2 linked regions of the Homo sapiens genome follow. The protein of the gene in region 2 interacts with the protein of the main gene of each other region in a biochemical or structural test. Each region holds a gene or a part of one and is shown on either strand. Other genes may lie near its edges. The genes, in order: SIRPA and ARHGEF6.

The links.
Region 1: the proteins of ARHGEF6 (region 2) and SIRPA form a complex in vitro, tested with the Homo sapiens proteins (one large-scale study listed by BioGRID).

The regions. Positions count from the first base shown.
Region 1 is NC_000020.11:1,933,320-1,937,140, reverse strand, and holds part of SIRPA (tyrosine-protein phosphatase non-receptor type substrate 1 isoform 1 precursor), read right to left. Parts: intron 2,427-3,821; coding exon 2,387-2,426; coding exon of another isoform or gene 2,375-2,386; intron 1-2,374. UniProt on the Homo sapiens protein: Immunoglobulin-like cell surface receptor for CD47. Acts as docking protein and induces translocation of PTPN6, PTPN11 and other binding partners from the cytosol to the plasma membrane.
Region 2 is NC_000023.11:136,669,343-136,673,163, forward strand, and holds part of ARHGEF6 (rho guanine nucleotide exchange factor 6), read right to left. Parts: intron 2,778-3,821; coding exon 2,678-2,777; intron 195-2,677; coding exon 140-194; intron 1-139. UniProt on the Homo sapiens protein: Acts as a RAC1 guanine nucleotide exchange factor (GEF).

The sequences.
Region 1 (3,821 bases), on a different chromosome or scaffold from region 2:
TTCCCATCTGCCCTCCTCCTCACCCTGCCTGAAGGGTCTTTCTGACCCGCACAGTGCAGTCTCCTCACAGCCCCGCCTCAGTGTCACCTCCTCCCGTTCCTGCCTCCTCCTAGCCTGAACCACCTGCAGTCTTCACCCATTTCTCATGTTCATCCCTCGAGGGTGTCTGTCCTGCTTCTCCTTGTAACAAATCCCAATCCACCATGTAAATTTCAGATGAAGCATGGCTCATACTAAGACCCTCCCTGGCTCTCCCCTCTCCTGGCAGGGTCCATGTTCCTTCTTTGTGCTTCCTCAGCCCATGTTTGTTTTCCATCACAGGGCCCGCTACCCAGGACCATGTCTGTTTGGGGGCCTGAGGAGGTGCTGCTGATGGTGGTACGTGTGGGGACATTCATTAATGTATGCGTTTATTCCACAAATATTCACTGGGCATTTGTTATGATTCAGAAACCAAGGCTGGCACATAAGAAGTCTGATCCATATTGAATGAATATATGAGTGGATGGCAATAATTTCACCTTCACTCAGGGCAAAGCTGGGGACAGGGAGACAGAGAACAGGGGCAGTATAAGAACGAGATCGCCAGTTAGTGAAGCGGGAAACGTTCTGGAGTCAGAAAGCCTGGGTTTGAATCCTGGTTCTAGCTCAGGGATTTTGAGCAATTCACTTAACCTCTCTGGGCCTCAGTTTCTCCATCTGTAAAGAGGGGATGATAATAGTGTCTACTGCCAGGGTTGCTGTGAGGATGGAATGAGATTATCCAGGTAAAGCGTTTAGAACAGAGCCTGGTACCTATTGAGCATCTGTCTTCAATAAATGTTCGCAATCATTAACCACTTAGCAAACTTGGATACCTCCCATGTGCTAATCCTATCAACCTGCCACTGCCGCCTCAAAAGCGCCCATCATGAATGATAAACTTTGCTCCCTCTGTGACTGGCCCCTGCGTGATAGAACAGAATAAAGCTACCACCAACCGGCACACCTCCTAGTTGGTGCACGGTAATGGCTGATTTCAGTTCTCAGGGCTTACAAGCAGCACACAATCACATAGATCACCCCATCCACTCTTACCACAACCCTGCTTGGGAAGGATTATCTATTCCACTTTACGGCTGAAGACACTGAGACCAAGGGAGGTTCAATAAAGTGGACAAAGTTGTCCGGCTGGCAAAGAACCAAAGTGTGTTGGACTCTACGACTGTGCTCTTAGCACACAGCTCCTCTGTCCTGAGCCCTGCGTGCTCTCATTTGCTTCTGTCTGGGAAATCCGTGTTGACAGCGTGCAACTCCCTCCCTGGCCAGGGCTGGCACCTGGCACTGGAATCGCAGGCACTCTGCCAGCTGGGCTGTGACTGTCTGGCTCACTGTCCAGTGCGTGGCACACAGTGGGTGCCCAGTAAGTCTCTGCTGTGAATTTCGTAGAGGTTTCCATGACCCATTCTTCTCACCATCATTTTTTTCCCCCAGAAGATTCCAGGAGGAAGTCCAGAAGTAAAATGATGGGGGAGAAGATCTCCCTCGCTCATGACTGGAAATTGTTTTTTCTTAATTACAACTCGAGCTCATGTCCGGGGCTGCGGGGGGACCCCATGGGTCACAAGGGCAGGGCCAAGGCATTTTGGTCTACAAATGCTGCGCCTTTCACCAGCCCGACTCCTTCAACAGATTACATCTAAAAAGATGACAACTGCCTTGGAAATGTCAAGGACAGCTGGCGCGCTCTCGTTCCGGGTTCAGAGCAGGGCCTGTCTTGTTACAAGATGCTGAGCAGCCCTCTGCCTTCAAGGTCTGACAGCATCAGCCGGTGATAAGCAGGGCTAGGTTTCTCAGAAACCGTGTTGCTGCAAAATCATCTCAGCAATGCTGACCAGAAACCTCCAGCTTGAGTGAGTGTGCCCTTGTGTGAGGTAATTAATGACATGGGGTCTTTCCATCAGCAAAGGTGGGAGAGGCCCTGGCAGGCTGGGCTTTGCAGTTCCAGCATAGAAAAGCCTGGCTGTGAGGAGCGGGCAGTGAGCTGGGAGTGGCGCTCCTGGTAGAGGGATGGGCCTGGGCAAATGTAGAGAGATGGGAAGGCACGATCCACACTAAGGGAGCTGCAGCCTGACTCCAGGGCACCATTTTCATAGGACGGATTGTGAATGGTGCCCCTGGGGAGTTGTGCAATGGGTCGCACTGAGTCATGAGGCTGCAACAGCCACTCTTGGCTGCAGTAGAGAGAAGGAATATGCACAGGACATGGGGAAAGCTAGGAGTGTAAGATCCTCCACCCTCCACCCCACAAGGAGTCTTAATTTAGAACCAGATCTGCAATTCCGGTTGATGTGAAGCAACCACGCCACGGAGTTTCCCAGGAAGGGCATCTCACCAAGGACTGTACCTGTGTTATTTCTCTGGCATTCTTCTCGGGCTCATGCAACCTAAAAAGGAAAGAGACACACAGATAAAAATACCCTCACTATCTCAAGTGCTCATGCAAACTGATAAGAATAACATTTAGGCTCCATTTTCTATATGGGTTGAGGACATGAACGAAGGACTCATAACAGAAATACAACTGCATATCAAATGTTTGGACAAAGGGGTCAATCTCACTAAAAAGGAATTCTAAGCAATGCACTATCATTTTTTTAACCTACTCTATTGGCAAGGATCTTTAAAAATTATAATACTTGGTGCTGGGGAAGCTATGGTGAAATGAACTGGAGCTTTCATACGTCACTGGTGGGAGAGGCAAACCAGTACAATCCTTTTGGGAAGCAGCTGGCAAAATCAAGAGCTTGGAAGATGTCCTCATCCTTTGACTCATAATTGCACTTTTTTTTGGGGGAATTCAAAATATAGAAAAAGCTTTCAACACAAAGGCATTTGTCAAGGGCTGGATGGGGGAGGAGGTTTATGTCTTAGGGCTCTGCCAATTGGGACTGGTTAGGGAAATTAGGATAAATCCACAGATAAAGATTTAAAAGGTTTATGAGGAGGTTTTTTTTTTAAGTTAAAATTGCTTACATTAAAATGATAAGTGAAAAAGGAAAATTCTCTGTAGGATTATCTCAATTATGAAAAATGTGTGGATAACACTGGAAGGAAACATAGCAAAATGCAAACTGCAGTGGTCTTTGCATGGTATTTTTTTTCTCCTTTTTAGTTTCCCATATTCTCCAAATGTTCTGTATTATAAACATCTATGTATCATCATTAAAGAAAGAAAAGAAAAAGACCAAGATGTCCAAGTTAATCAAAGAAGTTGTTCGTGCACTTGCTTCTGTAATTGGAGGTCATGACTTGACTCACTGGAGGGTCACGGTCAAGGTGATGAGCAAACCAGAGCCACTGGCTTGGCAGAAGTTGTGTAAATTCTCAAGCCGGCAACCCCGGGGATGTTAGCATGGATAATGTCAGAAATGAGCAGTGGGGCTTGGCAGCAGGGTTATTAATGGATTTGGCATGAGTGCTTGGCTCTGAAAGCAGTTCTGAGACATGACAAGCCCCACGTGGCCACAGAAAGAACCCTCCAGGAGCAGGGGCACGTCTGCTGGGGAAGATCACGCAGATCTGTCCCCACACTACTGGCCTCCAGCCCTCCTGGAGCTTCCCACTGGCTGGCTGGTTCAAGTCCAACTCATCGCCCTGCTCAGAGTCCCACGTGGTCTGACGTGCTGCCTCCAGGCTAATTCACTGCCCTGCCCTCATGTACCCACTCATCTGCCCACCAGATATTTCGGGGGGGGGGTGGCATTTGATGTTATGTACTTCATGCTTCAATAGCAGCCTCGAAGGACCCCTTTGATCATTTTTCCTCTTGGCTAACTTTC
Region 2 (3,821 bases):
CCTACCTTGATGACACAAGGAAAACAAAAATCCCCCCTCGCTACCTTGCTCCTAGGCCTTCCCTGAAAGCATGAGCAGCGTGAGGCAAGAAAAAGAGAATGGTTCTATTACCCGAGAAAATGATTTTATATTTTATTACCTGCTTCAGTTCTCTGACCTCGTCCTTCAAGGCGTAAACAGTATCAACAAGGCTCCTAGAAAATAAAGATAAAATTCAGAGACAAATGGCTTGCACTGAGGTACTGTTAAAATACTTAACAATAAAAGCCACTTTATAAAAATACAGATCCTGAAAAACAGTGGACTTTCTAGCTGATTGGGAATGGTACTGCTCTAAATGGTTTCCATCTTCTTGACTTTGATGGAAGAACAACCACCACCACACATGCTTAGCTAAATGCAATGTCATTACACCTTTTCTATACTTCCCTCCTCCTTTTCTACTCACTTCCCAGCTTGGGTGAACAAAACACAAGAGACTAGGGCCCGTCACTAAGTTTTTCTTTTTCTAGCTTTGTTGAGGGATAATTGACAAAGCTGTACAATGTGATGTCTTGATATATGTATACATTGTGAAGTGGTTACCATAATCAAGCTAATTAACATATCCATCTCCTCACATAGTTACCTTTTGTATGTGTGTGGTGGAAATCTACACTCTTAGCAAACTTCAAGTATACTCCATTGTAAACTATGCAGTCTTCCCTCCCTCGGTATCCATGGGGTATTGGTTCAAGGACCCCCATGGATACCAAAATCCACAGATGCTCAAGTCCTTAACATAAAATGGCATAGTATTTGCATATAACCAATGCACATCTTCCCATACACTTTAAATCATATCTAGATTACTTATCATACCTAATACAATGTAAATGCTATGCAAATATTTGTTATACCATATTTCTTAGGAAAAAACAATATGGTATAACAGTGCATACATATATCAAGACATCACATTGTACACCTTTGTCAATTATCCCTCAACAAAGGCGGAAAAAGAAAAACTTTACTAGGTATGAAAAAAATCTGTACATGTTCAATACAGATGCAACCATCCATTTTTTTCTGAATATCTTTTTGATCTGGGGTTGGTTGAATCCACAGATGCAGAGCCCACGCATGCAGAGGGCCAACTGTAGTCAACATGCTGTACATTAGTTCTCCAGAACTTATTCATCCTGCATACCTGAGATTTGGTACCCTTTGACCAACATCTCCCCATTTCCCCTTTCCCCTCAGTCCCTAGAAACTACCATTCTGCTCTCTGTTTTTAGGAGTTCGACGTTTTCAATTCCCGTCATAAGGTTTTGATTTCTCTAGCTTTGGGGCAGGAATGAACATCACCTATCATATAATGAGAGGTATCACAAGATTGCCTAGTCTACAGTATCTGTGCTATGACATTGCCCTTCCCAGTTCTCTGACTGCACATGACACAAAGTCAGAGGCATTCTTTCTGGAATATCTCAACCATACAGTACCCAAAAAAGTAATTTTTTGGTAATTACTGGGTTGCAGAACAGCCTTTTCCTCTCTGGGTCTCTCCCTGGACAAAGATTTTGGAGATCTAAGTTTTGGTTCTGATCCTGCCACTTACTAGTCCTCTGTTCTCTGGGAACCAGTTTCCTTCTCATCCTCTCTTGGTCTTAGTTTCTTTACATGTAAAATGGGGATAATAGCACATTTTCTGAAAACCTCACAAAGTTGTAAAAATGAATATCGTTATAATAAGAATTAACTAACATTATTTATTGAGCTAGCCTTTATACTTATTTCACTTAACCTCACAACAACTCTGAAAGCATTACCGTCATCCTTATTTTACAGATGAGGAAACTGAGGCACAGAGAGGTGAAGCAACTTGCCCCAGGTCACACAGCTAATGAGTAGCAGAAGTGGGAGTTGAACCACACTGTTTTTTGCTTGAGCCCAAGTACTTAACCATTTTGCTGTATCACTTCACACATCAGATGTAAAATGCATTGACAATGCCAAGCACCTTGAAATATGCTGTCCTATGCAAATTTAGGCCTGACTTCAGAAATGACTCAAGTTTAGACAAATGAATTATTTGGCTACTTTGTGTTAATTTTATGAGCCAGAAGGTACTTAACCTGATTTTCCCCCATTAGGTCACCCACACTACTGTGTAAAGGTAAGTCAGAGACATAATTTCCCTGAACTTCCTGTACCTCAGTTTCTTTATCTGTGAAAGTGGTGAGAGTAATGTTTATCTAACCGGATTGCTGTAGGATTTTAAATGATGTCAAAAATGTGAAAGCACAGCTTCTGACTCAAAACATGTGAGTGGCATCTCTCCGGGCAAGGAAATTGGTTCTGTGGCTGGAATTCCCAGCCACTTCCTAAACCCATCCAGGGCATTGATATTCCCATGTGCTCAGAAGCAGCTTACTGGATGGGGAGCTGGCTGCAGGGGCAGCTGCCAGCTGGAGCTGCCTTGGAGGGCTCTGTCACCGCTGCTTTTCCTTCCTCTTTCCATTTGTTAGTGGGCAGCCCTCTAAAGTCTCCCAAATGCATGCACAGCAAAGCAGGCCGCATTCCCAGGTAAGGAGGAGTTGTCCCTCATCATAGACTCTCCAGGAGCTCCCCGTCCTACCAGACCTTCTTGCCAGCCCCAAGAGAAACTAGGCAAGGTTTTGCCTGCTCTACTCACTTTTCTTCCATGATGGTCTGGCCGTTGCTTCTGGTTTCTTCAATGATGAGTTTCTCTTCCTCAGGGAGTAGGACTTGTGGAATGGAATCTTTTCGAGTACCTACAAACAAGGGTTGCAAGATGGGGGAGGAGGGAGAGTTACTAGTGAAGAGTAGAAATAGTGGGTGTTAGTTCTTTTCCACTATTGTTACAGAAGGGTCTTTGTTCATAGCATGTTGCTACATTACACCCAGAGGACAGTCACCCATCATTTGCTGACTAAATTTTCCTGACATGAGAAATTCTAAATGGCCAAATACACTGATTCAATCTTCCCGAGGTGGGAAGCATTTTGTATTCAGAAAAATAATGCAAAAGAGCCCCTGTAATACCTGTCCACAACCAAGACCTCCATTCTTTCCTGTTTTGCCTCCTCCAGAGCAAAGAGCTGACCAGTGATCACTCTTCCCTGCAAATCTCCAAGGAAGGACACACTACATCCTATGCTACAGTGTTTTGTCATTGTAGTAAAAGGTTGACAGTAGCACTGCACTGAAACACAATGTGCTTAAAGGGCCTCAGAAGCATCATCACCCCCATTTGTTCTCTTTACAGTCTTATAGGGTAAGGTAGGTATGTCTCCTAAGACCATTTTCATCAAGGGTGGAGTGAGGTTTGGAGATTATCACATCATCAGCAAAGATGTAGGTGTCCTCTGCCCAGAATGTCTCCAGGCTCTGGGACAGAAGAGGTGACAGAACAGGCATGGGGGCCCAACCAAACAGCTCTCCTGCACCTCCCTCACTCTGGATCCTCCCTCTCAGAGCTCAAGTGCTTAATCTTGGGTCTCCCTGAGCCACTGGCTTCCTCTCTTCTAGGCCAAGTTCCTTCAGAGGTGTGCACACTCACTGCCTTCACTTGACCACCTCCCCTTTCTTGAGGTAAGATGTGTCTCTGCCTTCTCCAGGGCCTAGCACTTTGTAGGTGCTTAATACAGGTGGCCCCCCATATCCACATGTTTCACATCTGTGGATTCAACCAACCGTGCATTGAAAATGTTCAGAAAAAACAAAAAACAATACAAATTTAAAACCCAATGCAGTATAACAACTATTTACACAGCATTTACATTTATGAGGTATGATAAGCAATCTAGAGATGATTT